Regions from separate parts of the Homo sapiens genome. Here all the other regions are linked to region 5. Evidence: fine-mapped expression QTL. A gene starts in region 5. Each other region holds a variant in brackets. All regions are shown on one strand. Distances are from middle to middle.

Evidence for each region. PIP is the estimated chance that this variant, and not a neighbour inherited with it, causes the effect.
Region 1: its variant is the best candidate, but not a certain one, in a credible set for the expression of ZNF418 in whole blood (TOPMed, PIP 0.70).
Region 2: its variant is the best candidate, but not a certain one, in a credible set for the expression of ZNF418 in whole blood (INTERVAL, PIP 0.60).
Region 3: its variant is the best candidate, but not a certain one, in a credible set for the expression of ZNF418 in whole blood (TOPMed, PIP 0.89).
Region 4: its variant is the best candidate, but not a certain one, in a credible set for the expression of ZNF418 in whole blood (INTERVAL, PIP 0.73).

The regions. Positions count from the first base shown.
Region 1 is chr19:57,868,677-57,873,755 of GRCh38, reverse strand. ZNF814 (zinc finger protein 814) reads left to right here. Exons shown (of 3, transcript NM_001144989.2): 3 at 1-4,375. The coding sequence ends at 934. It also overlaps the pseudogene UBE2CP5. Among named protein-coding and RNA genes, the nearest start is that of ZNF814, 18 kb to the left of the region's middle. The variant C/TC (reference allele first, on the strand shown) is at 2,767.
Region 2 is chr19:57,904,644-57,911,294 of GRCh38, reverse strand. ZNF417 (zinc finger protein 417) reads left to right here. Exons shown (of 3, transcript NM_152475.3): 3 at 1,181-5,521. The coding sequence ends at 2,745. It also overlaps a transcript of ZNF814 not described here. Among named protein-coding and RNA genes, the nearest start is that of ZNF417, 8.6 kb to the left of the region's middle. The variant C/T (reference allele first, on the strand shown) is at 3,483.
Region 3 is chr19:57,960,910-57,967,560 of GRCh38, reverse strand. It overlaps C19orf18 (chromosome 19 open reading frame 18), which reads left to right. Exons shown (of 6, transcript NM_152474.5): 4 at 929-1,031; 5 at 6,010-6,170. Among named protein-coding and RNA genes, the nearest start is that of C19orf18, 10 kb to the left of the region's middle. The variant A/G (reference allele first, on the strand shown) is at 3,478.
Region 4 is chr19:58,172,845-58,179,495 of GRCh38, reverse strand. LOC124904784 (a long non-coding RNA gene) reads right to left here. Exons shown (of 2, transcript XR_007067360.1): 2 at 1,907-2,959. Among named protein-coding and RNA genes, the nearest start is that of ZNF274, 6.9 kb to the left of the region's middle. The variant T/C (reference allele first, on the strand shown) is at 3,872.
Region 5 is chr19:57,931,687-57,938,337 of GRCh38, reverse strand. ZNF418 (zinc finger protein 418) reads left to right here and starts at 2,936. Exons shown (of 6, transcript NM_133460.3): 1 at 2,936-3,177; 2 at 4,436-4,521. The coding sequence starts at 4,516. RefSeq lists enhancers at 2,969-3,058, 2,651-3,533.

The sequences.
Region 1 (5,079 bases), 64 kb after region 5:
CAGACTTTATGAGTGTGGAGAGTGTGGGAAATCTTTTAGTCATAAAGGCACCCTCATTCTACATCAGCGAGTTCACCCTAGAGAAAGATCTTATGGGTGTGGAGAATGTGGGAAATCTTTTAGTTCAATCGGGCACCTTAGGAGCCATCAGCGCGTTCATACTGGAGAGAGGCCTTATGAGTGTGGAGAATGTGGGAAATCTTTTAGTCATAAGCGCAGCCTTGTTCACCATCAGCGCATGCACACTGGAGAAAGACCTTACAAGTGTGGAGACTGTGGGAAATCTTTTAATGAAAAAGGACACCTTAGGAATCATCAGCGAGTTCACACTACAGAAAGACCTTTTAAGTGTGGGGAATGTGGGAAATGTTTTAGTCACAAGGGTAACCTCATTCTACACCAGCATGGCCATACTGGAGAAAGACCTTATGTATGTAGGGAATGTGGAAAATTATTTAAGAAGAAGTCTCACCTCCTTGTACACCAGAGAATTCACAATGGAGAAAAGCCATATGCTTGTGAAGCTTGTCAGAAATTTTTTAGAAACAAGTACCAACTCATTGCACATCAGAGAGTTCACACTGGAGAAAGGCCTTATGAATGCAATGATTGTGGAAAATCATTTACCCACAGCTCTACATTCTGTGTTCATAAGCGAATTCACACTGGAGAAAAGCCTTATGAGTGCAGTGAATGTGGAAAATCTTTCGCTGAAAGCTCCAGTTTCACAAAACACAAAAGAGTTCACACTGGAGAAAAGCCTTATGAGTGCAGTGAATGTGGAAAATCTTTTGCTGAAAGCTCCAGTCTCACTAAACACAAGAGAGTTCACACTGGAGAAAAGCCTTATAAATGTGAGAAATGTGGGAAATTATTTAACAAGAAGTCTCACCTCCTTGTACACCAGAGTTCACACTGGAGAAAAGCCATATGAGTGTGAGGATTGTCAGAAAGTTTTTAGCAAGAAGGACCACCTCATTGCACACCAGAGAGTTCACACTGGAGAAAGGCCATATGAATGCAGTGATTGTGGGAAGTCATCTACCCACAGCTCTGCATTCTGTGTTCATAAGAGAGTTCACACTGGTCACACCACCTTATGAGTGCAGTGAATGTGGGAAATCCTTTGCTGAAACTTTCAGTCTCATTAAACACAGGAGAGTTCACACTGGAGTAAGGTCTTGTGATTGCAGCAAATGTGGGAAAAAAGTTACCTGAAGGTCTTTTCTCCTTGAATATCAGAGAGTTCACACTAGACAAATAAAATACATTTGGGCAATTTTGTAGCCACACCTCTTTGCTCCTTCAAGATCAGAGTTAACACTGGATCAGGGCCTTACCAGTGTGACATGTGAGATATTTATGTAGAAATCTAGCTTCATAACACACAGGAGACTTCCCACTGCAGAAATGCCTTTTGAATGTAATGAATGCAAGAAAGCCTTCAGCCTTTTTATTGGAGCCTCAAACATTGACATGAGAAAAACACCATAGATGTATATGGAATGTTATTTCTTTTTCAATGTAACCCTTTGAGAGTGCCACCTACCTAGATTGAATGTCATTTATTGAGCATCTGCAAAAGTTCCAAGTGTGTGGCAGCTACAGTGCATTTTTCACTATACCCAGGTACCTTGCTAGATTTTTTTTGAGACAGGTTGTCACTGTGTCGCTCAGGATGGCGTGCAGTGGTGTGTTCACATTTCACTGCACCCTTGATCTGGGCTTAAGTGATTCTGTTGCCTCGGCCTCCTGAGTAGCTGAAACCACAGGCATGCACTACCATGCTCCACTAATTTTTTTAAGTTTTGGAGAGACAGGGTCTCACCATGTTGCCCAGGCTGGTCTTAAACTCCTGGCTCAAGCGATCCTTCCACCTTGGCCTCCAAACATGCTGGGATTACAGGTGTGAGTTACTGTGCCTGGCCTTTTTTTTTTTTTTTTTTAACTTTTAATTTCTGATCGAGTCACAGAAGGATTTGTTGAGTAGCTTCAGCACTTCTTCCTTTGTCATTTTTTTCTGTCTGATAAGTCATGCCATGGACGTTACCCATTTTTATCCCAGAGGCCTCTTACGTTGACTTGAAAAGACGGACTATGTCTTTCAGAGATCTTGTGGGTATCACATCAATCTTGACAAATTTTCTACCCTCCAAGTCATGATCCTAAGAACAGCTTGCCTCCCATTTCTCCGGTTTGTGCTATTATGAAGGCCTTATTGTTTCAGCCTTCTTCAATCTTGAGGGTTGTTGTCACTGTATGGGTGGTTCAGAAATAAGTAGGTCCTGTTACTATGAAGGGGGTCACAGCTTTTGTTGGCATAGCTAAACTTTGTGGCTCATGGAACAGTATGAATGCAGAATGTAGCTTTCTCCACTTGTGGACTGCTTTGCATAGCTGCCAGAGGCCTCCAGAGAAGACCTTCAGGGCTTTGTGGTCTTTATCTGTAGCACGGATACTAAAATTTGTGGGTTCATAGGTCAGCTGGATACAGGGCATTTTTTGTGACAATTTCTGGCATTTTTTGAACAAGACAAAATTCTTTTACGAGGTATATTGCATTGTACTTGGTACGGCTGAGGGAAGTCTGTTGCCCAGCTCTTGCAATGCAGACACATGCCCTGATATCCAGAATTCTGTAGGATAACATCACAGATTGTAATGCTATCAGGTGAAATTATAATTTTATAGAATTACTTTATTTATAGGCAGTGGAGGAGACAGAATAATGTAACTGCAACTCATGTCTTTTTTTTCTTTTTTTTT[C/TC]TTTTTTTTTGAGGCAGAGCCTCACCCTGTTGCCCAGGCTGGAGTGCAGTGGCATAATCTTGGCTCACGGCAACCTCTGCCTCCCAGGTTCAAACGATTCTCCTGCCTCAGCCTCCTGAGTAGCTGGGACTACAGGCACATGCCACCACACCCAGCTAATTTTTGTATTTTTAGTAGAGATGGGGTTTCACCATGTTGGCCAGGCTGGTCTCGAACTCCTGACCTTGTGATCTGCTGGCCTCAGCCTCCCAAAGTCCTGGGATTACAGGTGAGCCACCACGTGCAGCGTAATGCATGTCTTTTAAAAGGGCATCCACAATGATCCAGTCACTACGTATATGATGAATATGCAGATACAGGAATTATCAGGACTTCCATAATGATGAATATTGTATTGTTGAGGCCATTGTCAGAGGAAATAATCTAAAGGTTTTGTGAATTCCTGTACTCATTCTGGGCTGTTCTCCTCAAGGTCATTCCTGCATTAACAGGAGGAAGATGATAGGGAGAAGGGAGATCTCAGTTCAGTGATGTGGCCTTTGTGACCAGCCAGCCACTTAATCAGGTGGAAATGGCCTTAGTGCCACATCAATATTTGCTACCGTGGAGGCTAGTTTTCCCACTTAGGGCATGAGAAGAATTGGTGTAGTCAGTATAGAGTTGCCAAACCTGTTTTCCAAAAATAATGGTAAATCTATATTTTTCTTTTGAACTGCATTTTTTTAATTATTATTATTATTTATTTTGAGACGGAGTCTTGCTCTGTTGCCCAGGCTGGATGGAGTGCAGTGGCACGATCTCGGCTCACTGCAAGCTCTGCCTCCTGGGTTCACACCATTCTTCTGCCTCAGCCTCCCAAGTAGCTGGGACTACAGGTGCCCGCCACCATACCCAGCTAATTTTTTGTATCTTTACTAGAGATGGGGTTTCACCATGTTAACTAGGATGGTCTCGATCTCCTGACCTCGTGATCCGCCTGCCTTGGCCTCCCAAAGTGCTGGGATTATAGGCATGAGCCACCGTGCCCAACCTTTTTTTTTTTTTTTTGAGACAGAGTCTCACTGTCAGCCAGGCTGGAGTGCAGTGGCATGACCTTGGCTCATTGCAACCTCTACCTCCTAGGTTCAAGCAATTCTCCTGGCTCAGCCTCCCATGTAGGTGGGACTGGAAGCATGTGCCACCATGCCCGGCCAAGTTTTGTATTTTTAGTAGAGACGGAGTTTTGCCATGTTGGCCAGGCTGATCTTGGACTCCTGACCTCAGGTGATATGCCTGCCTCAGCCTCCCAGAGTGGTGGGAATACAGGTGTGAGCCACTGCTGCCAGTCTGAAGTATATTTTAAAGCTGTGATGAGTTATAAATGACATTCAGTAAGCTATGCATATTTAAGCTGTAGCATGTGATAAATCTTGAGTTTCATATAATCCCATGAAACCATTAACATAGTCACAATAATGAACTTAACACCTTTATATTTACTTGGAACCTTTTTATAAAGGCTTTCTTTCTGTTCTCCAGACAACCAATGATTTACTTTGCTGTACAGTAGAGTACTTTCCATTTTCTGGAATGTTAGATGAGTGATGTAATAAAGTGTTTCCTCTTATAATCCCTGGGTGCTCTCTCGTATCATTTTTTTTTTGTTTTTTAATGACCAAAATGTTTTCTTTTTGTCTTTTTTTTTTTTTTTTTTTTGAGATGGAGTCTTGCTCTGTGCCCAGCCTGGAGTGCAGTGGTGCAATCTCAGCTCACTGCAAGCTCCACCTCCCGGGTTCATGCCATTCTCCTGCCTCAGCCTCCCGAGCAGCTGGGACTATAGGCACCCGCCACCACGCCCGGCTAATTTTTTTGTATTTTTAGTAGAGACGAGGTTTCACCGTGTTAGGCAGGATGGTCTCGATCTCCTGACCTCACGATTCGCCTGCCTCGGCCTCCCAAAGTGCTGGGATTATAGGCTAGAGGCACCACACCCAGCCCAAAATGTATGTATTTAATATTCATCACAAGGGCTCCACCAAGGTTTAAATTAAAAGACAAAAGAAAAATAGTACCACAGCTCAAGATACAGAGTTCTACACAGAAATCACGGAAAGGGCAGACCATCTAAGGGAAAATTAAAAAGACAACACAAGGATAGGCTGGGCAGCCTGGGTCAGAGCTCCTGGCTGGTGACCTACTTTGAGTAGCTTTCTTGCAGGTACTTCCTTATTTTTATTTTTATTTTATTTTATTTTTTTTTGAGGCAGAGTTTCACTCTTGTTGCCCAGGCTGGAGTGCAATAGCGAGATCTCGGCTCACTGCAACCTCCACCTC
Region 2 (6,651 bases), 27 kb after region 5:
CCCATTGTTGAGAGTTTCACACGTGTTAGTTCTGTACCTTTTCACTTCTACTGTGATATCCACCCCAGCACTAATACTCACATCTCACCCATTTTTCTTGTGCTTTCATCTGCACTTGTCTCTGATATTGGTGTATCGATTACATATTAGGAAGTGTATGCCCTATGTTAAACCATCCATGACCACCCTCTGCTGTGTTGTACTCATGTTTTCTTGGTCTTGACATATGCTTCTATATTTATATTTTTTGAGATGGAGTTTCGCTCTTGTTGCCCAAGCTGGAGTGCAATGGCACAATCTTGGCTCATTGCAACCTCTGCTTCCCAGGTTGAAGTGATTTTCCTGCCTCAGCCGCCCAAGTAGCTGGGATTACAGGCCTGCACCACCACACCTAGCTAATTTTTTCTTTTTTTAGTAGACACAGGGTTTCACCGTGTTAGCCAGGCTCGTCTCCAACTACTGAACTCAGGTTATCCACTTGCCTCACCCTTGCAAAGTGCTGGGATTACAGGCATGAGCCACCGCGCCCAGTCCATATGCTTCTACATAGCACTCACATGTCATTAGGAGATAAGGTCCCGTACACAACTTGTGTTTAGAGGAAGGAGCTGTGGACCCTGCCTCTACTCCCTGTGTTGCCTGTATGCTTGTGCTCTTTACATCATGAGGCCTCCTGGATTCTGTGACCTTTATAGCCCAGTAATGCTAGGCAGCTCATTCTTCTTTTTATTATTATTATTATTATTTTGAGATGGAGTCTCGCTCTGTTATCCAGGCTGCAGTGCAGTGGTGCGATCATGGCTCAATGCAAACCTCCACCTCCCGGGTTCAAATGATTCTCCTGCCTCAGCCTCCCGAGTGGCTGGGATTACAGGCGCTCACCACCACATCCAGCTAATTTTTGTATTTTTAGTAGAGATGGGTTTTCACCATGTTGGTCACGCTGGTCTCGAACTTCTGACCTCAGGTGATCCACCCGCCTCAGCCTCCCAAAGTGCTGGGATTACAGGCGTGAGCCACTGCGCCCGGCCAGCAGCCCCATCTTCAACTTGAAGCCAACATTGTGTTCCTGCAAATATTTCTATAGATTAATTCCTCAATTTGTGAGACGTACTTGTGGGTGGGCTGTGCCTTCCCGTCAGAGGTACTTTGCACTTGACCAGCATTTTCTTGCTCTCAGGTTGTTGGTGTGGATCAAAAGATGAGGAGGCACCTTGTAAGCAGAGAATTTCTGTACAAAGAGAGTCTCAGAGCAGGACTCCTAGGGCAGGTGTTTCTCCTAAGAAGGCTCACCCCTGTGAAATGTGTGGCCTCATCTTGGAGGATGTTTTTCACTTTGCTGACCACCAGGAAACTCATCACAAGCAGAAGCTGAACAGGAGTGGAGCATGTGGAAAAAACTTGGATGACACTGCATACCTTCATCAGCACCAGAAGCAGCATATTGGAGAGAAATTCTACAGAAAGAGTGTCAGAGAAGCATCGTTTGTAAAGAAACGTAAGCTCAGGGTGTCACAGGAGCCATTTGTCTTCCGCGAGTTTGGGAAGGACGTTCTGCCCAGTTCAGGATTGTGCCAAGAAGCAGCTGCTGTAGAGAAGACAGACAGTGAAACTATGCATGGCCCACCCTTTCAGGAGGGAAAAACTAATTACAGTTGTGGAAAACGCACAAAAGCCTTCAGCACCAAACACTCAGTTATTCCACACCAGAAACTTTTCACTAGAGATGGATGTTATGTGTGCAGTGATTGTGGAAAATCCTTTAGCAGATATGTCAGCTTCAGTAATCATCAGCGAGATCACACTGCAAAAGGACCTTATGATTGTGGAGAGTGTGGGAAATCTTATAGTCGAAAGAGCAGCCTTATTCAACATCAGCGAGTCCACACTGGAAAGACAGCTTATCCCTGTGAGGAGTGCGGGAAATCTTTTAGTCAGAAGGGCAGCCTTATTAGCCATCAGCGTGTTCACACTGGAGAAAGGCCTTATGAGTGTAGAGAATATGGGAAATCTTTTGGTCAAAAGGGTAACCTCATTCAACATCAGCAAGGTCACACTGGAGAGAGAGCTTATCACTGTGGGGAATGTGGGAAATCTTTTCGTCAGAAGTTCTGCTTTATTAACCATCAGCGTGTTCACACTGGAGAAAGGCCTTACAAGTGTGGAGAATGTGGAAAATCTTTTGGTCAAAAGGGCAACCTCGTTCAACATCAGCGAGGTCATACTGGAGAAAGGCCCTATGAGTGCAAGGAATGTGGGAAATCATTTAGGTACAGATCCCACCTCACTGAACACCAGAGACTTCACACTGGGGAAAGACCTTACAATTGTAGGGAATGTGGGAAATTATTTAACAGGAAGTATCATCTTCTCGTTCATGAGAGAGTTCACACTGGAGAAAGGCCATATGCGTGTGAGGTATGTGGGAAATTATTTGGTAATAAGAACTGCGTGACTATACATCAGAGGATTCACACTGGAGAAAGGCCGTATGAATGCAATGAATGTGGGAAATCATTTCTTTCCAGCTCTGCGCTTCATGTTCATAAAAGAGTTCATTCTGGACAAAAGCCTTATAAGTGCAGTGAATGTGGAAAATCCTTTGCTGAATGTTCCAGTCTCATTAAACACAGGAGAATTCACACTGGAGAAAGGCCTTATGAATGTACCAAATGTGGAAAAACATTTCAGCGAAGCTCTACCCTCCTTCATCATCAGAGTTCACACAGGAGAAAGGCCTTATGAGTGCAGTGAATATGGGAAATCGTTTGCTGAAACATCCCGTCTCATTAAACACAGGAGAGTTCATACTGGAGAAAGGCCTTATGAGTGCTGTCAATCTGGGAAACATCAGAATGTCTGCTCTCCTTGGTCTTAAGAGACTTCGCATTGGAACGGAGTCTCATTCTGTCACCCAGGCTGGAGTGCAGTGGTGCAATCTTGGCTCACTGCAACTTGGGCCTCCCAGGTTCAAGTGATTCTCCTACCTCAGCCTCCCAAGGAGCTGAGATTACGAGTACACCACACCATGCCCGGCCAAATACTTGGTTTTCAGTACCACAAGAGCTATGAGCTGGTTATCCACTTCATGTGGAATCATAAGTGTCCCCAAGTGACAATACGTATAGATTGCTGGGCAGTGAAACAGTTAAGATGTCACCGTAGCTTGCTTTCTATTCAACATCTTTCTAAGATTACCTTACTATTTCTTTTGTTCCAAGTTTGTATTTCCTCAGAGTTCTCACATATGGAAAGGATACACACTTTGTAGAAACAAGAACTTTATGTTATCCAAGTTCTGGGATAGCCATGAGCTCCAATTACCTCAGAGCTCCGAGTCCTCTACTCAGTACCCGTTGAGATTTATGTGTTCTGAGGCTTTTGTCTTCTAGCTACTTACTTCATTCTCCATGGGTAACGTCATTCATCCACATTAACTAATTTCCTCACTCCAAGCTCTTTTCTGGAGATAATCTCCAGTC[C/T]CTGTGCAGACACTGTCATTGCACTTTCTGCTGAAATGGTAGTTTCTTGCCAGCAAGGTGAGATTATGGAATCCAGAATCTTTTTTCAGGGGCCACATGCCCATTTCCCCACTTGCATGAATGTCGACACTGTAGCCACAGTTTTGGCCGTAAATGTGAATTTGGCAAGTAACCACTGTTCCCAAATTGGGAAATGTCCCAGTCAGAAGAAGATTATCTGGGACACTGATACTGACAGGGAGATGGGACATTCTGAGGGACCCGGAGGCAGGGAGCCACCTCCTCAGCTTCCCTGAGGGCTGCCTAGAATCTCTCTTGTTTCCTCTCACTCTGAATTATTCTTCCTCTCATGACTGACCAAACACATGGAACCTCACAAAGTCCATTTTAAGAGCTTTATCTTGTGAAGTGAAGAACATGAAGATAGTTTGAATCAAAGTTATTGAGTGGACACTTAATGTCTTTATAACATTTTTTACATATGTGTTTGTGTTTTTTGGGGAGCATAATTTGCAAATGGAATATCTGTTATTTTACTAAGATGCTTCATGGATACAAGAGTTAAAACTTCCTGTCCCATTTAGTGAAACAAAAGGTTAAGAAATGTGGATAAAGCTTGTAAGTTAGAAATGGCAAGATAATCAGCTATATGAAGAATCTCAGCTGGGTGTTTTGGCTCAGGCCTGTAATCCCAGCACTTTGGGAGGCTGAGGTGGGTGGCTTACAAGGTCAGGAGTTCAAGACCACCCTGGACAATATGGTGAAACCCTGTCTCTACTAAAAATACAAAAATTACCCAAGCATAGTGGTGGGTGCCTGTAGTCCCAGCTGCTTGGGAGGCTGAGGCAGGAGAATTCGTTAAACCTGGGAGGCATAGGTTGCAGTGAGCCGAGATTGCACCACTGCACTCCAGCCTGGTGACAGAGCGAGACTCCGTCTCAAAAAAAAAAAAAAAAAAAAAAAAAAATCTCAATCCCTAAATGTTACCTTTTATAACAGCAGGTTATATGGGCTTAGATATTATCCCTAAATTTTTTTTTTTTTTTTTTTTTGAGACAGAGTCTCACTCTGTCACCCAGGCTGAAGTGCAATGGCATGGTCTCGGCTCACTGCAACCTCCGCCTCCCAGGTTCAAGTGATTCTCTTGCCTCAGCCTCCCAAGTAGCTGGGCCTATAGGTTCCCTCCACCACGCCCACCTAATTTTTGTATTTTTAGTAGAGATGGGCTTTCACTACGTTAGCCAGGCTGGTCTCAAACTTGTGACCTCATGATCCACCCCCCTCAGCCTCCTAAAGTGCTGGGATTACAGGCATCTGCCACGGCACTCGGCTTATCCCTAGAAATCCTATGATAGCATGATGTATAGGCACCTAAAGGCATGGCACTTGAGAAATGTGAATAAGATTGTAAGTTACAAATAGCAAGGTACAGTCAGATGTTAACAGTCTCAGCCCCTAAATGTCACCTTGTATTACAGCATGTTATATAAGCACATACAGGCACATACATGAAATAGTGATACTTCATTCTCAGTAATATTTTTCATCCTTCTCACTGGAAAGATCTTTGATGATTTTTAATCAACATAGGAGTTTCAATGATATCTAGAAGTTTAAAAGGGCTCGTTCAAACAAATTATGACCATACACCCTGAAGAGTATGTGTCTGTCTCTTGTGGTGTAAATTTTTATTTTATTACACCCAATTATGTTCCCACAAAACCTTTATAATTGGGAAATTAAGGAGCCTTCCTCGGAAATGGAGGTTGCAATCAGCTGAGATGGTACCACTGCACTCTAGCCTGGGCAAAAGAGCAAGGCCCTGCCTCAAAAAAAACAAAACTTTTTTCTTCATAAACTACAGTTTATATAGGCAAAACTTTCAGTACTAAGCAATTTTAGTCTCTGCAGGCTCTTGTCTTGAATTAATACAACTTTTGTTAATTCTCTTATGAAGTTAAATCTTCCTGCTTGTATGCAACTTATATGTTGAAATTTTTTTGTACAAAAGATTCATACATCTTTCCTGTTTGAAATTATTTTACCGTGCTTCATCAATCTAATGTTTGTTATTTTTATTACACCAGTAATTTCCTCATTGTGTTGAATCTGAAAGTGGCATAGAAATTGATACGTACCTAGAAATGTTTAGCCAGTCGGTGTGTATTTGATGTAGCAATTTTTTCCTTTGAATCACATACTCTAAGAGAAGTAACTTCCTCTTGCTAACCTCTACTTTGCCTAAGTGATGAATTAATCCTCTTTAGATGATTATAGTTATCTTTTCAACACTTAGCAAGAAAGAATCTATAAAGAAGAACTATAAATCTGTAAAGAAGAACTTTCCCAGCCGGGCGCAGTGGCTTTGGTTCAGTGCTTCTCAGCCTTTTGGCTAAGATCAAGTGTGAGACGCAGTTTCACTCTTACTGCCCAGGCTGGAGTGCAATGGTGAAATCTTGGCTTACTGCAACCTCCGCCTCCCAGGTTCCAATGATTCTCCTGCCTCAACCTCCAGAGTAGCTGGGATTACAGGCACCCGCCACCACACCTGGCTACTTTTTTATATTTTTAGTAGTGACAGGGTTTCACCCTGTTGGTCAGGCTGGACTTGAACTCCTGACCTCAGGTGATCCACATGCCTCGGCCTCCCAAAGTGCTGGGATTATAGGCATGAGCCACTGCACCCAGCCCCCAGCATCATTTTCTTCAGAGAACATTCGAGGATTCTTCATGATGGCTGGGCTTTTTTTTTTTTTTTTTTTTTTGAGACGGAGTTTCACTCTTGTTGCCCAGGCTGGAGTGCAATGGCACAATCTTGGCTCACCACAACTTCTGCCCCCTGAGTTCAAGCAGTTCTGCCTCAGCCTCCCGAGTAGCTAGGATTATAGGCATGCACAATCACACCTGGCTAATTTTGTATTTTTAGTAGAGACGAGGTTTCTCCATGTTGATCAAGCTAGTCAGGAACGCTCGACCTCAGGTGATCCGCCCGCCTTGGCCTCCCAAAGTGCTGGGATTACAGGCGTGGGCCACCACTCCCGGCGATGCCTGGGCTTTCATTGGGTATTAAGTCTACAAACAGCACCTTCAATTTAAACTGTCAATTACAGTTCTTAAGATTTAGGAAGTGATGGAGCTTGGAAAGTTACGAGATTACAAAATCCGTGAA
Region 3 (6,651 bases), 29 kb before region 5:
GGCTGGTCTTGAACTCCTGAGCTCACGTGATCTGCCCACCTCGGCCTCCCAAAGTGCTGGGATTACAAGAGTGGGCCACCACACCTGGCTGTGTCTGTTGTTTCTAAGCCACCAAACCTGTGGTGTTTTGTTACAGCAGCCAGAATGAACTGGCACCGTAGTATCACGATTCACTCTTTCATTCCCATTCACGAACATGCTGCCAGTGTTCACATGTTAAAAAACAAAATCCATCTCTCGATCCCTTAGACTCCTCCAGGAGCTGTGCCCATTTCTCTTCTTTCTTTTATACAAAGTTCCCCAAAATAATTTTCAAAATTCATGGTCTACAGTTACTTTCTTCTCACTCCCTCCTGAAACTGCTTCAGTTGTGTCCCCACCACACAGCTAATATGGCCTCTGCCCAGGTCTCTAGTGACCTCTTGGATGCCCAATCCCCAATGGTCTGTTTCAGTTTTCTTTCTTTTTTTTTTTTTTGAGACGGAGTTTCACACTGTTGCCCAGGCTGGAGTGCAGTGGCATGATCTCGGCTCACTGAAAATCTAACTTCAGTATTTTCTAAAATTAAGAGTCCTAGCCTGAGCAACGTGGCAAAATCCCATCTCTACAAAAACACAAAAAAATTAGGCAGGTGTGGTGGCGCATGCCTGTAGTGCCAGCTACTTGGGAGGCTGAGGCAGGAGAATTGCTCGGACCCGGGAGGCGAAAGTTGCGGTGAGCTGTGATCATGCACTGCACTCCAGCCTGGGTGATAGAGCGAGACTCAGTGTCAAAAAAGAAAACAAAACAAAAAAAAACAAAACAAGCTATTTTTGAAAGTGTTTCTGGTTTTGACTTCCATTCCCCTCTGTAAGGACAAATATATTAACTGAAAGACATAGCTAAAATGAACATTTTTGAGCACTTCTTTTCTTTTCTTTCTTTTTAGCAATAATTCGGCATAGACCTGCTCTTGTTAAAGTAATTTTAATTTCGAGCGTAGCCTTCAGCATTGCCCTGATATGTGGGATGGCAATCTCCTATATGATATAGTAAGTATCTGCTAAGTAATATCTGCTGTCCTTAAATGAGACATAACAAGTCAACTGATTATTATTTAATGTCAAAGGATGATGATGATACATCTTATAATTGCTAAAGTATTGGTCATTATAAATTTCCAGATTAGTGTTTTTCAACATGTGGATTGTACTCATGTTGAGGCATGATACACATGAAAAAAAAAGAAAGAAAGACACAGGACAGAATACAATTCAGCAGAATAGAAAATATTAGAAAATATTACGCCGGGCATGGTGGCTCACGCTTGTAATCCCAGCACTTTGGAAGGCCGAGGCGGGTGGATCATGAGGTCAGGAGATCGAGACCATCCTGGCTAACACGGTGAAACCCCGTATCTACTAAAAATACAAAAAATTAGCCGGGCGTGGTGGCGGGTGCCTGTAGTCCCGGCTCCTCGGGAGGCTGAGGCAGGAGAATGGTGTGAACCCGGGAGGCGGAGCTTGCAGTGAGCCGAGATCGTGCCACTGCACTCCAGCCTGAGTGACAGAGTGAGACTCGTCTGAAAAAAAAAAAAAGAAAAAGAAAAGAAAATATTACTTAAAGTATTAATGTAAAAGGCTGATTTTTAAACTTTTCAGATACATGTGAGACATGCACACACACACAGACACACGGTTGTGAAATAAAATATATTTCTTACTGGGAGTCATGATCAAAAATGCTTGAAAGACACAGTTTGAGATGCTAGCATCCTCCCAAAATTCAGTATTTTATTTTATTTTATTTTTTCTACTTTTTTTGGAGGGGAGGGGACGGAGTTTCGCTCTTGTTGCCCAGGCTAGAGTGTAATGGTATGGATCTTGGTTCACTGCAACCTCTGCCTCCTGGGTTCAAGCAATTCTCCTGCCTCAGCCTCCCAAGTAGCTGGGATTACTGCAGGCATACGCCACCATGCCAGGCTAATTTTGTATTTTTAGTAGTGATGGGGTTTCTCCATGTTGGTCAGGCTGGTCTCGAACTCCAGACCTCAGGTGATCCGCCTACCTTGGCCTCCCAGTGCTGGGATTAAAGGTGTGAGCCACCATTCCCAGACCCCAGAATTTGGTATTTTAAAATAAACTTGAGGCCGGGTGTGGTGGCTCATGCCTGTAATCCCAGCACTCTGGGAGGCTGAGGCGGGTACATCACCTGAGGTCAGGAGTTCAAGACTAGCCTGGCCAATATAGTGAAACCCCGTCTCTGCTAAAAATACAAAAATTAGCTGGGCGTAGTGGTGGGCACCTGTAATCCCAGCTACTTGGGAGGCTGGGGCAGGAAAATTGCTTGAACCTGGGAGGCAGAGGTTGCAGTGGGCAGAGATCACGCCATTGCAATTCAGCCTGGGCGACAAGAGCAAAACTCTGTCGCAAATAATAAATAAATAAATAAATAAATAAATAAAATAAAAAGAACTTGCTACTCTGGAAGGAATCTCAATAGTGCACAGCAGAAAAGAGCGACCACTCTCCCTTTCACTAGAAATGTGTCAGTGCAGTCTGGGGTGATAGCAGCTTTGGGGGAAGTTACATCACCGTCTTCGCAAATAAAGCTTGGGGTCAAGCTGTTTTGAGTGATGTAATCATTTTGAAATTCACGGTAGAAAAAGGTGAGACACACTGTGATCTCATGCGGTTCTGACCAAACCAACAGATTCTGACTCCTACTGTATGATTCCGTGCTAGGATTCCATTGTATCCCACCAGAAACAGCTTGAGAAGTACAAAATTGCTTGCTTCGTTGAATTAAGTGTGAAAACAAGATATATTGCCATGTGTGAGATATTTTCTGAGGCAGCTATGTTAAGACCACCTTGGAGTAGGTCACATGAAGGCAAAGTGACATTAAAGGTAAAAGGGGAATTTTGCTAATGAGAGCGTAACCTGCGTGCTTGGTTGTGGGTTATCTCCACTACATCCGCTTAATTTATGTAAATGTATAGGCCGGGGGCATTGGCTCACACTTGTGATCCCAACACTTTGGGAGGCCGAGGCGGGTGGATCCCTTAAGCTCAGGTGTTTGAGACCAGCGTGGGCAACATGGTGAAACCGCGTCTATACAAAAAATACAAAAATTAGCCAGGTGTGGTAGCACGCACCTGTAGTCCCAGCTACTCAAGAGGCTGAGGTGGGAGGATGGCTTGAGCCCTGGAGGTGGAAGTTGTAGTGAGCTGAGATTGCACCACTGCACTTCCTCCTGGGCGACAGAGTGAGACCATGTCTCAAAAACAAAAATTATGTAACTGTAGCTTCTGTATATTTCATTATTATAACAAAACTATTAATAAATATAAAGTTTTGTAATGCAACTCAGTAAAACATATCTCCTGGACACTCAGTGTTGAATTGAGTTGCTGAGCTAGTCAATTCTTATTGTTTTCACATTTGTATTAGCACTAAGCTATAGTGGAGCCTGGGGCCAAAACCAAAACCAAAACGA[A/G]AACAAACAAAAAAAACAAAACCACCTGTTCAAAAGTACAAGTTTTATGTAATTTTTAGTGGTTCATTTTTTCCAGAAGTAGATTTTGAAAATACTATTGGTAAGTTTGCTTTTATTTAAACCAGGAAAGTAAAATTACAATTAATTTTGTTTAGGGTAGAGATAAAATATTTATTTTTATTTTTATTTTTTTAGAGACGGAGTCTTGCTCTGTTGCCCAGGCTGGAGTGCAGTGGCGTCATCTCAGCTCACTGCAAGCCCCGCCTCCCAGGTTCACGCCATTCTCCTGCCTCAGCCTCCCAAGTAGCTGGGACTACAGGCACCCGCCACCACGCCCGGCTAATTTTTTTTTGTATTTTTATTAGAGACGGGGTTTCACCATGTTACCCAGGATGGTCTCAATCTCCTGACCTCGTGATCCGCCCGCCTCGGACTCCCAAAGTGCTGGGATTACAGGCGTGAGCCACTGTGCTTGGCCTAGATAAAATATTTAAACTTAATGTTGTGACTTTTCATACACCAGTTTTCAATTATTAAATATATTCTGAACTTCTTAAGTGTTTTGGAAAAGAATAAGCATTTAAAAATACATTAAAACGTGTATAGGGACTCACACCTTTCCTTTTGACTCAAGCTCCCCTGTGGTTTAGCACAGCACTGTTTGGATCCTATCTCTGTTTACAATCTTGATATTTGGTATATCCTGGATTTTGTTTTTTTTGCTTCATTTCAATTTTTAAAAATACTGAGTTAAGGACCGGGCGCGGTGGCTCACGCCTGTAATCCCAGCACTTTGGGAGGCCGAGGTGGGCGGGTCACCTGAGGTTGGGAGTTCGAGACCAGCCTGACCAACATGGAGAAACCCCATCTGTACTAAAAATACAAAAAAATTAGCCAGGCATGGTGGCACATGCCTGTAATCCCAGCTACTCGGGAGGCTGAGACAGGAGAATCACTTGAACCTGGGAGGTGGAGGTTGTGGTGAGCCAAGATCGCGCCATTGCACTCCAGCCTGGGCAAAAAGAGTGAAACTCCATCTGCAAAAAAAAAAAAAAAAATTGAGTTAAAATACTCATCTTCATTTTTCACTGTTTGGGGTACCTCCTTACATTTCGCACTGAGGCGAGCACCTCCCTTTTGTCACTCAAATCTTGCTCCTGTCCCAGCCTTTTGAGCAAGAAAAACAAAAAATAAACTAACCCTAAAAGTTTTTTGTTTTTTTTTTTGAGATGGAGTTTCACTCTTGTTGGCCAGGCTGGAGTGCAATGGCACCATCTCAGCTCATTGCAACCTCCGCCTCCCAGGTTCAAGTGATTCTCCTGCCTCAGCCTCCCAAGTAGCTGGGATTACAAGCATGTGCCACCACGCCCTGCTAATTTTGTATTTTTTTAGTACAGACGGGGTTTCTCCATGTTGGTCAGGCTGGCCTCCAACTCCTGACCTCAGGTAATCTGCCCGCCTCGGCCTACCAAAGTGCTGGGATTACTGGCGTGAGCCACCGCGCCTGGCCCCTAAAAGTATTTTTTTAATATATAATTCACACAGTACTGGGAAGGTAAGTATGTTAGGAAAACACTGTCATCCATTTCCACACCAAACAGAAATAGCTGTTCAGTGATCCACTTCCAGGATTGGACCTACAGTGAGGTAGAAAAATCAGTAACACCCATTCTGTCCTATTTTGTTCATCACGGATTTCTTGACATTAATTTTTATTTTGTAAAATATTACACTGAAACATGATTATGGCCGGGCACAGTGGCTCACACCTGTAATTCCAGTGTTTTGGGAGGCCAAGGAGGAAAGACAGCTTGAGCCTAGGAGTTTGAGACCATCCTGGGCAACATAGCAAGACGCAATTTCTAAAAAAAAAAATACAAAAATAATTAGCCGGGCATGGTGCCACGAGCCTGTGGTCCCAGCTACTTAGGAGGCTGAGCAGGTAAGACTGTTTGAACCCAGGAGTTGGCAGCTGCAGTGAACCATGATTGTATCAGTTCACTTCTAGCCTGGGTGACAGAATGAGACCCTGTTCCAAAGAGAGAAAGAGAGAGAGAAAGAGAAAGGGAGAGATACAGAGAGAGAAAGGGAAAGAGAAAGGGAGAGAGAGAGAGAAAGGGAAAGAAAAAGGAAAGAAAAGAAGGGAGGGAGGAAGGAAAGAGAGGAAAGAAGAAAGAAAAAGGAAAAAAAAGAGAAAGAAAAAGAGAAGAGAAAGGAATGGAAAGAAAGATGATTTGTTTGATTATGGATTTTTTGTCAACACCTTAAGTTTGGAACCCAATGTGAGTGCCTTGTTCACGTCTAGTCCTGGCTTTGATCCATGCTTTGGGATGATCGGAGTTACTCCTTACTCCAGGAAATGGCCTGACCATGTAGACAGTTGAGAGCTGACCATGATTAGTCTGGTTTCAAAGTCTTATGTCTGCACCCACTCCACAAGCGACTCCTTTCCTGTCAAAAAGTGGCATGGTTGAGAAATGAATTATTCATCATGAAAACTGTGCTTCTAAATTCATTTATATCATTCTCCAGTCGACTGGCACAGGCTGAGGAAAGACAACAGCTCGAGTCACTTTATAAGAACCTCAGGATACCGTTATTAGGAGATGAAGAAGAGGGCTCAGAGGACGAGGGTGAGTCCACGCACCTACTTCCAGAGAACGAAAATGAGCTGGAAAAGTTCATCCACTCAGGTAGTGTGACCTGTAAGAGCTATTCGCAGGAAAGCCAAGCTGGCAGCGGCAGCTTGCGTTTCTTTTCTTTCTTTCTCAGCGGTGGCTTGCATTTCTTTTCTTTCTTTCTTTCCTTTCTTTCTTTCTTCCTTCCTTTCTTTCTTTCATTTTTTTTTTAAGACGGACTCTTACTCTGTAGCCCAGGCTGGAGTGCAGTGGCGCGATCTCTGCTCACTGCAAGCTCCGCCTCCCAGATTCACGCCATTCTCCTGCCTCAGCCTCCCGAGTAGCTGGGAGTACAGGCGCCCGCCACCATGCCCGGCTAATTTTTTGTATTTTTAGTAGAGACGGGGTTTCACCATTTTAGCCAGGATGGTCTCGGAAGGCAGCTATGCTCACCACTATACCACCAACGCTCGGGTGCCAGGATGGTCTCGATCTCCTGACCTCGTGATCCGCCCGCCTCGGCCTCCCAAAGTGCTGGGATTACAGGCGTGAGCCA
Region 4 (6,651 bases), 240 kb before region 5:
TTTTAGTAGAGACAGGGTTTCACCATGTTGGTCAGGCTAGTTTCGAACTTCTGACCTCAGGTGATCTGCCCATTTTGGCCTCCCAAAGTGCTGGGATTACAGGAGTGAGCCACTGCCCCTGGCCCCATATGCTTTTTTAAATCAATGGTCTACTGTTGGTTTAAATTAAACAACATATGGCCGGGCGCAGTGGCTCACGCCTGTAATCCCAGCACTTTGGGAGGCCAAGGTGGGCAGATCATGAGGTCAGGAGATCGAGACCATCCTGGCTAACATGGTGAAACCCCGTCTCTACTAAAAATACAAAAATTAGCCGAGCATGGTGGCGGGCGCCTGTAGTCCCCGCTACTCGGGAGGCTGAGACAGGAGAATGGCATGATCCCAGGAGGTGGAGCTTTCAGTGAGCCGAGTTTGTGCCACTGCCTTCCAGCCTGGGTGACACAGCGAGACTCCATCTCAAAATAAATAAATGAATAAATAAATAATAAATAAACAACATATGACTAAGAATAAAATATGTAAAGCTATAAGTTGGCCCAAACCATTATGGCAGCTGGACCATTATGGCAGCTAGTGGTGTTCAACTGAGTCCTAAGCCAGCTGTGCAACTGAATCATGGACCCAGGATTTGATCTCCACTCATCATTCTCTGTCTCTGTTTCATCACACAGAGCATCTCAAATTGTTCCATGTAAAGGGGGATACATTTTAAAATCATTTTTAAAAAGAAGAAAGATGTGTCTTTCCATCTTTGAAATGTGAGCTTTGAGGACACCTCTCTGAACTTCTGAGAGCTTGGGAATGTAAGGTTACAGAAGTATGGATAAATTAATGTGCATTTGAACTATAAATTATTAATATCATAGCTTTTTTCCCAGAAAAGAGGCTCTTTGGTTACTGCTGCTCATTCATTCTTTGCCTGTTTTCCCCAACATCAAAGGTAAACTCACCATCAAGATAATCCACACTGGACATAACACATGGGGGAAAGGCTAAGAATTTGGGCTCTGAGCAGAGGCCGATCACAAACAACCTCCAGAAAACGGCCTGCCTCAAAGAGGAATGCAGGAAGTCCACAGAATGCCGGACAAACCAGTGAGGCAGGTTTGGAATAATCTAGTACATGCCTTTGCACCCTGTATCCGTTAAGGCATGTTTGGTTGGAAATAAATAAAAACCCAAATAACCAACGCCGTTTTCCCACAAAGAAAATCTGCAAGTATAGGTCTTTTCTGGTGCTGGTTAAGCTGCCCACTGAAGTCACGGAGGATGAGGCTCACTCTTTCCCTCTTGCTGTCCTTAGTGTGGGGCATCTTTTCTTTAGGCCATTAGGATGTAGACAAGGAACAAGCCAGCCACACACCTCCTGCTAGTCCTGAACACAACCCATCTCAATATTTCCTGCCTTAGGAAATCGACCTTTTCTTCTCTGATGAGAACTGACTCCTGTCTCTCTTCTTGAGTCTTTTTCTTGTTTATTCCTCCATTCAATAACCGTGGAGGATACACACATCGAAAATGACAGAAATCTGCTCTCAGCAATGCTGAACATTTTCCAGATATTCTTGTTACTACAAATAAAGTATGAGGCCAGGCTCATACCTATAATCCCAGCACTTTGGGAGGCCAAGGCGGGAGGGTCACTTGAGCTCAGGAGTTCAAGACCAGCCTGAGCAACGTAGCAAAACCTCATCTGTATTAAAGCAAAAAATGTAGCTGGATGTGGTGACACACTCCTGTAGTCTTAGCTACACAAGAGGCTGAAGTAGGAGGATCATGAGCTAAGGAAGTTGAAGCTGCAGTGAGCCCTGATTATGCCACTGCACTCCAGCCTGGGCGACAGAGCTTGACCTTGTCTTAATAAATCAATCAATCTGATATGAAATAGACCTGAGTGCTGTAATGATTGGGAAAGGAAACCTAAAAATGCATTTATTAACATTAACATACTTTAAAAACCCAATTGAAAACTTTAAAAATCAAGATTACAATAAGCTAGGCAGAATACAAAAGATGGACAAATCAACACCACAAAGCAATGCACAAAATCTATACCTGCAACAAGTATATTGAAATGGAGGTTCCTGTCACAATAGAATCATAAAAACAAAATGTCTGAAATTAGTTTGTTGGGAAATGTGAAGATAAGTTTTGGAAGAATTACAAGTAAACTTACATAAATGAAAATGCTTATCAAGTTCAAGGATAGATGGCCAATGAGTAAAGTGTCAGTTACCCAAATTCATCACTAGATACAATGAAAGAGCACATAGGATTATAACAGAGCCTTTTGGGAGGCTTGACCCTTGAACTTTCTTTTGTGCTTCCTCCTCCTCCAGTGTGAGAAAGAACTGATTGCTATTCTTCACATAACCAATTGGCTTCAAACTCATCTTAAGGAGAAACGCCTGCAGAAATGACTAGTTCAGGCATGTTCTTTGCTTTTGCCAATAAATTTGGACTTCAGAGCCATCAATAGCATACAGTTCTTATCACGGAGTTATTTAGGGGCCATGGCGAGGAAATCATTTTGTGGTTCAGCAAGTTGGCACAGTTTATTTTGAATGGAAGTGTGTGATTAATTCTGGGCACCTATTTTCACCCAGAGAGGACCCATGCCACACTCTATGAACAGAGAAAGAGAGACAGCATCCACATCTGCATGGATCACTTGAGTCCACCACATCCCAGAGTGTGCTTCCATGTCACACTCTTGGACTTGTGGAATATCTCCTTTCCATCGTTGCAGCCCCTTGGCTGTGCCTCTGAGGCTACCAGGCCCTTCCTTCTGACTGCAGTGGCCTCTGCTCTGCATGAGATGTCTGCCTTGCAGGAAGTGTCTCTGAGTCAGGGCAGCAGGGGCCATCCTGAGCCAGCAGAACTGGTTACCTGTGATGGCTGCTCCTAGGAGTCCCCAAACTGTGGCTTAGCATGACCAAACGAGACTTGAGAGCAAAAGCTGGTGGGGAGCAAGAAAGGGTTATCATGTAAGGTGTAGTTTTGGCAGAAGTGACAGTATGCCACCATTCATGATCTTAAATTTCACTGACTGGGCACAGTGGCTCACATCTGTAATCCCAGCACTTTGGGAGGCTGAGGTGGGTGGACTGCTTGAGGTCAGGAGTTCAAGACCAGCCTGGCTGATATGGTAAAAACCTTTCTCTACTAAAAATACAAAAATTAGCCAGGTGTGATGATGCATGCCTGTAATCCCAGCTTCTTGGGAGGCTGAGGCATAAGAATTAATTGAACCCAGGAGGCAGAGGTTGTAGTGAGCTGAGATTACACCACTGCACTCCAGCCTGGGTGAGAAAGCAAGACTGACTCAAAAAAAATGTTTGTTTGTTTGTTTTTCATTAAGTCCAGGCTGGGCACAGTGGCTCATGCCTGTAATCCCAACACTGTGAGACCAAGGTGGGAGGACTGCTTGAGCCCAGGAGTTCAAAACCAGCCTGGGGAACATACTTGCCCAGTTTTTTGTGTGAGATTCCATCCCTACGAAAACAAAACACTAGTTGCGTGTGGTGGTGTACACCTGTAATCCAGGTACTCGGGAGGCTGAGGTGGGAGGTTCGCCTGAGCCTGGGAAGTTGAGGCTGTAGTCGCACCACTACACTCCAGAGACTCTGTCTCAGCACAAATAAAACTAAAAATTACAAAATAAAAAATGTAATTAAATCCAGATGTAAGGGCTTCTACGGTTGACCCCTGGGCTCAAGTATGAGCTGTAACCAGTCACTGTCCCTCCTTTGGCTCAGCCCTCCCCAGTGTATGGCCTTGGTTCTTTCTGAGGCACACGTCTTTGCAGTCCTAAGATGGTGATTACAGTTCCAAGTCTAGCATTTAGCCGTGCAACATTTGGCTGAAGAAG[T/C]TGGCATCAGGAAGTGTATTTGCTTTCTATTGCCACTGTAGCAAATTACCAAAACTTTGTGTCTTAAAACAACAACAAATTTATTGTCTCACAGCTCTGGAGGTCAGAAGTCCAAAATGGGTCTTACTAGGCTAAAATAAAGATGTCAGCAGGACTGTGGTCCTTCTGGGGGGTCTAGGAGAGAATCCATTTCTTTGCCTTTTCCAGTTTCTAGAGACTACCTGCCTTCCTTGGCTTATGGCCCCTTCCTCCAATTTTAAAGCCAGCAGTGTAGCATTTTCAAATCTCTCATTCCATCATCACATCATCTACTCTGATTCCTGCCTCAAGTTATACAAAGACATTTGATTAAATAGGGCCCGCCCCAAGTAATTCAGAATAATCTCCCCATCTCAAGAATCTGGCCAGGCATGGTGGCTCATACCTGTAATCCCAACACTTCGGGAGGCTGAGGCAGGAAGATTGCTTGAGCCAAGGAGTTTGAGACTGGTCTGGGCAACAGAGCAAGACCGTGTCTTAACAACAACAAAAATAGCTGGGTGTGGTGGCATGCATCTGTGGTCCCAGCTACTCAGGAAGCTGAGGCAGGAGGATCGCTTGAGCCCAGGAGTTCCAGGCTACAGTGAGCCATGATCACACCACTGCACTCCAGCCTGGGTGACAGAGTGAGACCCTGTCTCTAAAACAAAAACAGATCCTTAATGGCATCTTCAATGTCCCCTTTGCCATGCGAAGGTAACATATGTATAGGTTCCAGGGTTTGGAATGAGGACATCTCTGAAGGAAAGGGGGCATTACTCTCCCTACCACAAAGAAGTAATACAACATTTTGGCCGGACGCAGTGGCTCACGCCTGTAATCCCAGCACTTTGGGAGGCTGAGGCGGGCAGATCACGAGGTCAGGCATTCGAGAACAGCCTGGTCAACACGGTGAAACCCCTTCTCTACTAAAAATACAAAAAATTAGCCGGGTGTGGTGGTGCGCGCCTGTAGTCCGAGCTACACAGGAGGCTGAGGCAGAAGAATCGCTTGAACCTGGGAGATGGAGGTTGCAGTGAGCCGAGATCGCGACACTGCACTCCAGCCTGGGCAACAGAGTGAGACTTTGTCTCAAAAAAAAAAAAAAAAAAAAAGTAATACAACATTTTCGGAAGACTTCTCTGTTGTTGACTCGCTCTGACCCTGTTAGCCAGGATTGACACATGCATCCATGTCCTGGCTGGGAGAAAAGCTGGAAAAGAGTGTAACTGGTTTTTTTGGCATCTGTAGAAGGCGCCAGACTGTGCTGCAATGAAGGTGGGTGGCACAGCCACAGTAGCTGGCACAAAAGTCTGCTTGGGTGGAGCCCATCTACCCCAGAGACCTCTCCTCACATTAAGTTATAAGGCCACAAACCAGATCCGGATGGAAGTTTCCGGACTTGCTGCCAGCAAAGATCTGGAACTGAGGGTCAACAGCTCATGCCTGCAATCCCAGCACTTTAGGAGGCTGAGGCAGGAGGATCACTTGAGGCCAGGAGTTAAAGACCAGCCTGGGCAACATAGTGAGACTCCATCTCTACCAAAAAAATTTAAAAATTAGCTGGGCATGGTGACATGTGCCTGTAATCCCAACTACTCAGGAGTCTTAGGTGCGAGGATTTCTCGAGCCCGGGAGATTAAGGCTGCAGTGAGTTATGATCAGGCCACTGCACTCCAGCCTGGGCAACAGAGTGAGACCCTGTCTCCTAAAAAAAAAAAAAAATGGAACTGAGTGAAGTCCCAACATCCAGGGAGCAGCTACCAGGACATGGGGACCCTGGTGGAGGATTGAATGGGGTGCTGGAAGGGAAAGATGGCATTTCGCTCAGGTAAGGGAGAAGTGTGAGCTCTCCCTTGGGTATAGGAGGGAAGCCAGAATTTCAAAACGTGACAGAGAGAGAGAGACAGAGAGACAGATTGTGAAATTGAGAGAAAAGTCTTTTTCACGTGAGGCTGCGCGGTGGCTCACGTCTGTAATCCCAGCACTTTTGGAGGCTGAGGTGGGCAAATCACCTGAGGTCGGGAGTTTCAGACCAGCCTGACCAACGTGGAGAAACCCCATCTCTACTAAAAATACAAAATTAGCCAGGCGTGGTGGCACATGACTGTAATCCCAGCTACTGGAGAGGCTGAGCAGGAGAATCACTTGAACCCGGGAGGCAGAGGTTGTGGTGAGCTGAGATCGCGCCATTGCACTCTAGCCTGGGCAATGCCCATCAAAAAAGAGTGAAACGCCATCTCAAAAAAAAAGAAAAAAAAAGATTCATTTGTGAGACCTTTCCACTCATCCCTTTCCTCAGATACACCCCAGAACACCCTCAGAACACCCCAGATACCCTTTTGGGCAGCTATGGGTGAAGCTGCCCCTCAATCTCAGCTCCAGTGGATGGCCCACTGGCCTCATTCTGTCTCCGTTGCTGCAGTGATTAATCCAGGGGCATGCAAGCACTCTGGTCCAAGCCAGTCAGTGCAAGGCACCCTCCTGTCCATGACAAGTGTCAAAGCAATGAACATGGACGGAGAGTGAAGCCCAGGACTTTGATTAAAAGTTAGGAGAGTGTGTTTGGCTGAAAAATGTCCCCCAAAGATGTCAGGCCTGAATTCTTGGAACCTATGAATGTTGCGTTATGTAGAGACAGGGGCTGCATATGTATTTAAAGATCTTGAGAGGGGAGATGATCCTGGATTGTGCATGTAATCACATGTATCTTTACAAGAGGGAGGCAGGGACAGATGTGACCACACATAGGCAGAAAAGGA
Region 5 (6,651 bases):
AGGCCAGGTGTAGTGGCCGAATCCTATAATGCCAGCACTTAGGGAGGCCGAGGCAGGAGGATTGCTTGAACTCAGGAGTTTGATACCAGCCTGGGCAACATGGCAAAACCACATCTCTCAAAAATTAGCTGGTTGTGGTGGTGCATGCCTATAGTCCCAATTACTCCTGAATGCTGAGATGGGAGGATCACTTGAGCCTGAGAGGTTGAGACTGCAGTTGAGCCTTGATCATGCCACTGCGCTTCAGCCTTGGCAACAGAGTGAGACGCTGTCTCAAAAAGGGGAGAAAAAAATAGAATGTGGAGATAAGCAGATTTCAAATGTGAAGTGAAAAAGAAGCTTTTCATTGTTCAAACCATATTGCTAAGTGAGAAAAAGTACAGATGTGTATAGAATCTATGACTTTTTTCCTATAAGATGAAAAACTTGTAACATAATTGACACACAGAATAATGAAGAAAGGGAGACACAATTCTATGAGGATAATACTATACTGCAGATTTCACCTTCTGTTTTTACTTATTCATTAAATTATTTATTTGGAGACAGAGTCTTGCTCTGCTGCCCAGGCTGGCCTCAAACTCCTTTGCAGAAGTGATCCTCCCTCTAAGCCTCCCAAGTAGGTAGGTGAACAGGCACAATTTTTCTCCACCTTGGTATTGTTCAATGTTTTTAATAAAGAAAAAAAAATCTCAATGACAAAACCAACAAGGGGGACATTTTTAATCACATGCTGACCTTAATTCCATCTCTTCGTAGACATCACTGTTAAAACTTCTGGGCCGGGCGAGGTGGCTCACACCTGTAGTCCCAGCACTTTGGGAGGCCACCTCGGGTGGATCACCTGAGGTGAGGAGTTTGCGGCCAGCCTGGCCAAAATGGTGAAACCTTGTGTCTACTGAAAATACAAAAATTAGCTGAGTGTGGTGGCAGGCACCTGTAATCCCAGCTACTTGGGAGGCTGAGGCAGGAGAATGAATTGCTTGACCCAGGAGGAGGAGGTTGCAGTGAGCTGAAACTGTGCCATTGTACTCCAGCCTGGACAACAAGAGTGAAACTCCTTCTCAAAACAAACAAACAAACAAACAAACACCTGTAAAGTCAGCTGGGAGCAGTGACTTATGCCTGTAATGTCAGCATTGTGGGAGAAGGAGGCAGGCAGGTCAGAGGTCAAGAGTTTGAGACCAGTCTGGCCAACATGGTGAAACCTTGTCTCTACTAAAAATACAAAAATTAGCTGGGCGTGGTGGCAGGCATCTGTTATCCCAGCTACTTGGGAGACTGAGGCAGGAGAATCGCTTGAACCCGGGAGGTGGAGGTTGCAGTGAGCCAAGATGGCGCCACTGCACTCCAGTCTGGGACAGAACGAGACTTTGTCTCAAAAAAAAAAAAAAAAAAAAAGAAAGAAAAACTTCTGTGAAGTGTAAATTTTTTTCACCATCCACTCATGTTTCAATTGACCTATTTCTGTCATCGCAGTTATTAGATAGTCGTTGGTAATAAGTTTCTGTAACTGGCATTTCACCTGTTTTTCTGGTATCATATTAGTTCCTCATGCAGAACACTCCCCGCTGTCACAAGAGAAACAAATGATAATCACTTCCCAGGAAAGATAACAAGCTCGATAATTTAACATACGCCTAGTGTCTCCAGGTGGAGATTATCACCACCATTACCAATACCAAGCTGAGATTTCTCTTTCATTGTTCTTTACCTGAGACTGACTTCAAGTTCCTAAAATGAGTTGAAAATATAAGTTAGAATACCAAGTAAGGGATATTACATGAATAAATGTTTTGCTGAATGAATTGGACACAATAATTGACTATATAAGCAGGAGAGTTGTTTTTCCATGGGAACGACTGATTGACCTTTGTACTCTTTCTTTAGCCTCTCCTCTATCTTCCTTGGCATGGTCCTATCTGGATTAGTTCTCTTTTGTCCCTGGCAGACTGAAAAACCAACTCTAATGCCTCAGAGTGAGGCAGGAGAATAGGGAATTAGGGTAACCAAGAATGAAGGCATAAGCAAAAGAACAGCAGGTGCAGCTAGTTCTAGGCAAGATGAGGCAGCACACAGGCCACGTCCTCACTCCTGTGGTAACAAGACAGAAGTCTCCACTTCAGCCTCTGATTGGTTGTGCACCAGTCCTTCATAGGATTGGAGGCCTTTAAAGAACTCTTGGGGTATTATAAAATTCTAGCTTATTCATGGCAAAAACCGCAATTACTTTTGCACCAACCTAATAAAACCCTAAAAAACATTGTAATCGGGGTTCTTGAGCCGCTTGGTCGCCTGCTCCCACACCTACATTCCACTTCTGTGGAGTGTACTTTCCCCTCAATAAATCTGCGCTTTCATTGGTCCGTTCTTTCGTTGCTTTTTTTGTGTGTTTTGTTCACTTCTTTGTTCAATGCGCCAACAACTGGACAACTCACAGCCAAGACATTCTATCCGGTAACAAGAGTGCATTCATGTGAATTATAACAGAGTAATGTTTATCAGCCTCTGCTTCCAGTGCAAGCATTCTGTGTCTAAACGATTGTATAAAGTGATACACGAATTTGGATTTGTAGCCTTTGGGGGCCTTCACAGTATTTTTAGCGCCTGGGAGCTTGAATTTACAGAAATGTGAATTAATATTTTTGCAAACACTTAGGTGGTCAGTTACAAACAGGGATTCCCCAGGAATCTCAATATGGCCTCTAAGGAGGGGCGAGACCATCCTCTGCCCTAAAAGGGTACGCGCTTTAATGAACCCCCTGAGGTAGGGCTGGGACTTCCCTGCAGAAGCGCCTTTGGGAAGCGGCAGCTTTACTACCTTGGAACCTGGGGAACTACATTACCCAGAAAGCTCTACATTGAATGACAGCGCAACAGAACCAGTAAGGGCTCAGAATAAAGGCGTTTCTGTGTGCGCACGTAACGTAGTGGCGGGATTCTCAGCGTTCTCTGGTAGCGACCATTTTGGTTAATGTTGGGTGTGTTTCTGCGGTTTGTGAGGTGAGAGGCGCTGGAGCTATGGGTCCGAACCGCGGTGTCTGAACCCAGAAGGTGAAGAGTCCTTCTTGCTGCACAGAGGCAGATCTTAGGCCCCGTAACGGCGCCCGCCGCTCCCGGCAGTGCTTTCCCCGCGTACTCGGGATGGCGGCGGCCGCGCTGAGGCTCCCGGCTCAGGTAATTGTGCCTTCCCTGCCCTCAGGTCACCTCATCCTAACCCGAATCCTGAAGCAGCGAGAGAGCGGCGACTGTTCACAGGTCTGCAGCCCGGACCCGGCGTCGGGACACTGAGGCGTTCGCGGGAGAGGTCCTTGTTTCTGACACCTGTGGGATGCGGTGGGGAGAGCGACAGGCACAGGGACCGGCGCGGGCTATGGCCTGGAGGACAGACCCGGGAGGATGGAACCTGGGGTCCACAGGCGCCTGTAGGGAACAACGTGTGAGGCGAAGCTTCTCCTGGAAGAGCAGGCTGGGGGCTGTGTATTCGCTGTGAAGACGCTAGAAGCCATGGAGAGTTTCGAAGAAAGGAGGGATGCGATCCAAGTCCAGGCTTTTAAGGTTTCCCAAAGGCCAAAGGAAGAACATAGTAGAGGAGATGAGGACCTTAGGGTTCTGGGAGGTTGACTCCTTTGTTGATAGATCACATAGGTGGTAGAGATGACATTTTGCACTGAGACACGCAGGTCAACCAGTCTGAGGTCACCTGGCTCCAGCGATAAGAAAAGGTTCAAGGAGACCTGAGCTTATCAGATCCCCTTTGTAACGTCTGCTTTCCCCTCAGACACTCCTGGCTACAAAAGCACGTAAAGAACCCACTGAGGGGGTCGGGCAAGGTGGCTCCCACCTGTAATCCCAGCACTTTGGGAGGCCGAGGCGGGCGGATCACCTGAGGTCGGGAGTTCGAGACCAGCCTGACCAACATGGAGAAACCCCGTCTCTAACAAAAATACAAAATTAGCCAGGCGTGGTGATGCCGCATGACTGTAATCCCAGCTACTCAGAGGCTAAGGCAGGAGAATTGCTTGAACTCGGGAGGCAGAGGTTGCGGTGAGCCATTGCACTCCGGCCTGGGCAACAAGAGCGAAACTCTGGCTCAAAAAAAGGAACCCACAGAGGGAATTAGAGGGTGTTCCATTCCCTCACTGGCCTTATTCCCCATTCACATGTTCTCTAGCTTGTGATGTCCTGGGACTCTTACTTGCCATTTTTTCAGTCCTTTGATCTGAGAACACTGGAGAAACCCTAAACCCAGAATCCTAAGTCCATGACACAGGATGTATGGAGGTATTCCCATTTCTGTCAACCCATGTAAACATACTTTGAAGGTTAACTACAGAGTTGGTACCAGGTCATGAAATGCTTAGAGGTAAAAATTCGGTGGGGAGGCAAGAGGGCGGCGAGGAGGTGATGTTACCACAGTCCCATTTGTCTGCAGGCATCATCTGGCTGCAAAGAAGAGAACACACTGTGTTTGAGGGAGGAGGAAGGAGGATCAGAGTTTAAACTCCTGCCATAATGCAGGTGAGGGTTACTGGACCATATTAATGAGTAAGGAGCTGTGGCTGGATTCAAGATTCACAGTTTGTAAAATGGCAACTAGATTTTCCTTTTTTTTTTGAGCGGGAGTCTCGCTCTATCGCCCAGGCTGGAGTGCAGTGGCACGATCTTGGCTCATTGCAAGCTCTGCCTCCCGGGTTCACGCCATTCTCCTGCCTCAACCTCCCGAGTAGCTGGGACTACAGGCGCCCGTCACCATGCTCAGCTAATTTTTTGGATTTTTTAGTAGAGACGGTTTCACTGTGTTAGCCAGGATAGTCTCAATCTCCTGACCTCGTGATCCATCGGCCTCGGCCTCCCAAAGTGCTGGGATTACAGGCATGAGCCACCAAGCCCGGCCATGCCCGGCTAATTTTTAATATTTTTAGTAGAGATGGGGTTTCACCGTGTTAGCCAGATGGTCTTGATCTCCTGACCTCGTGATCTACCCGTCTCGGCCTCCCAAAGTGCTGGGATTACAGGCGTGAGCCACCAAGCCCGGTCGGTAACTAGATTTTCTAATAGACTGTGAGGGCATGAAAGGGGAATCAGGTATGACCACCAGGTTTTTGGTCTTAGCATCTGCAGTGATGGAAGCTGCATCAACTGAGATGAGCACATAGTAGGTATAATATTCATTGGGGATGTGAAGAATGTTGTTTTGACCATGTTAAGAGTCTGAGATAGTTTAGCCTCCATTATGACATTGACACACTTCAAATTTTCATGGTAAATCTTTTGTGGGGGCCAGGAAGGGGTGGTTGCAGGCTGAGGGCTGAATTTCTTGCTTGGGTCCCTGGCTGACATTGCCACAGGAGAAGGAGGCAAGGGCTCATGAAGATAGGGTATGTCAGACAACATGGTTTGTCAGGGGGCATAGGCTTTCCAAGGGTAGAATAGATAAGAGATGTAAGCAGAAGCATAGAAATAATTGAAGGAAGATGACACTTGGGCCAAGGCTGGTACTTATTCACCACTCTGTGGACTCACCAAGATTTTGAGAAAACTTTGTTGGTGCTTGGGGGTTTTCATTCGGCCTGGTGGATACATGCTCAGGGTAAATTTGGTTATCTGTGACAGACATTGGGCCTGGGGTGGACAGCTGATGGGCTGGGATTTTATTTATTTTTTTCTTTTGTTTTCCACTTTTCTTAGACCATTCTCCATAACAAGGGAGTGGGATTTAAATGACTCTAGGTGGACAGAGGAAAGTCGTCATTGTAGAGGGGTCACCAAGTGCAACACAGAAGTGGAATAGGGCCATGGATATCTAAAGCCCCACCTGGTTCTGTGGGGATGTGGAGCCATGCAAGAAGGCCTTCATAGAATGACTTGGGACTGCATTGCTATTGGGAGCCATGAGAATTCTGTGGTAATATTGGATCCTGTTTGAATTTGCCAAGCATACTCTGAATTCTGTCAGCCACATTGTGGCATAAGGCCGAAAATGAAAGGCCAATGTGATGTGCAACGTTGGTGTGTGGTGATACTGTATGACCTCAAATGGCCTGAGCACAAATCCCCTTCCCACTCTGTTCTATTGGATAATGTATCCTGGCCTAACAACCCTTTTCATTAAGGGATCAGGCACAGTTTCTGGTTATTATACTTTGTACTGGGTTTCAATTCCATTTCTACTCAGAATTATTTAAGCAAGTCAGTGGCACCCTCCTGAGAAATCAGGGGCTATCACACCCTCTTCATCCTACAAAGTGTGCATAACACTGTCCCTGGTTTCCATTTGTTGTCCACAGTGCAACCCCCATGTGGCCCTCTCTGCCAGGCTGTGAGTTATTTGATTTTGAAATTGCTGTGGATGGCATATGTACAGTCTCAGGTGTCAATTGTTTCCCCAACACTATAACCCTAAGGGGAGAATCCCACTCAGAGCAGTAGAAGGAAAAGAAGGGGATTAAAATACTTTGTTGGCCAGGCTTGAAGGCTCATGCTGTAATCCCAGCACTTTGGGAGGCTGAGGTGGGAGGATTGCTTGAGGCCAGGAGTTTGAGATCAGCCTGGGCAACTTAGCAACACCCCATCTCTTAAAAGAAAGTGGTTGATGTTGCACATACGTAAGATCCCATCTCCACAGAAGGCTGAGGCCTGGGGCTAAGG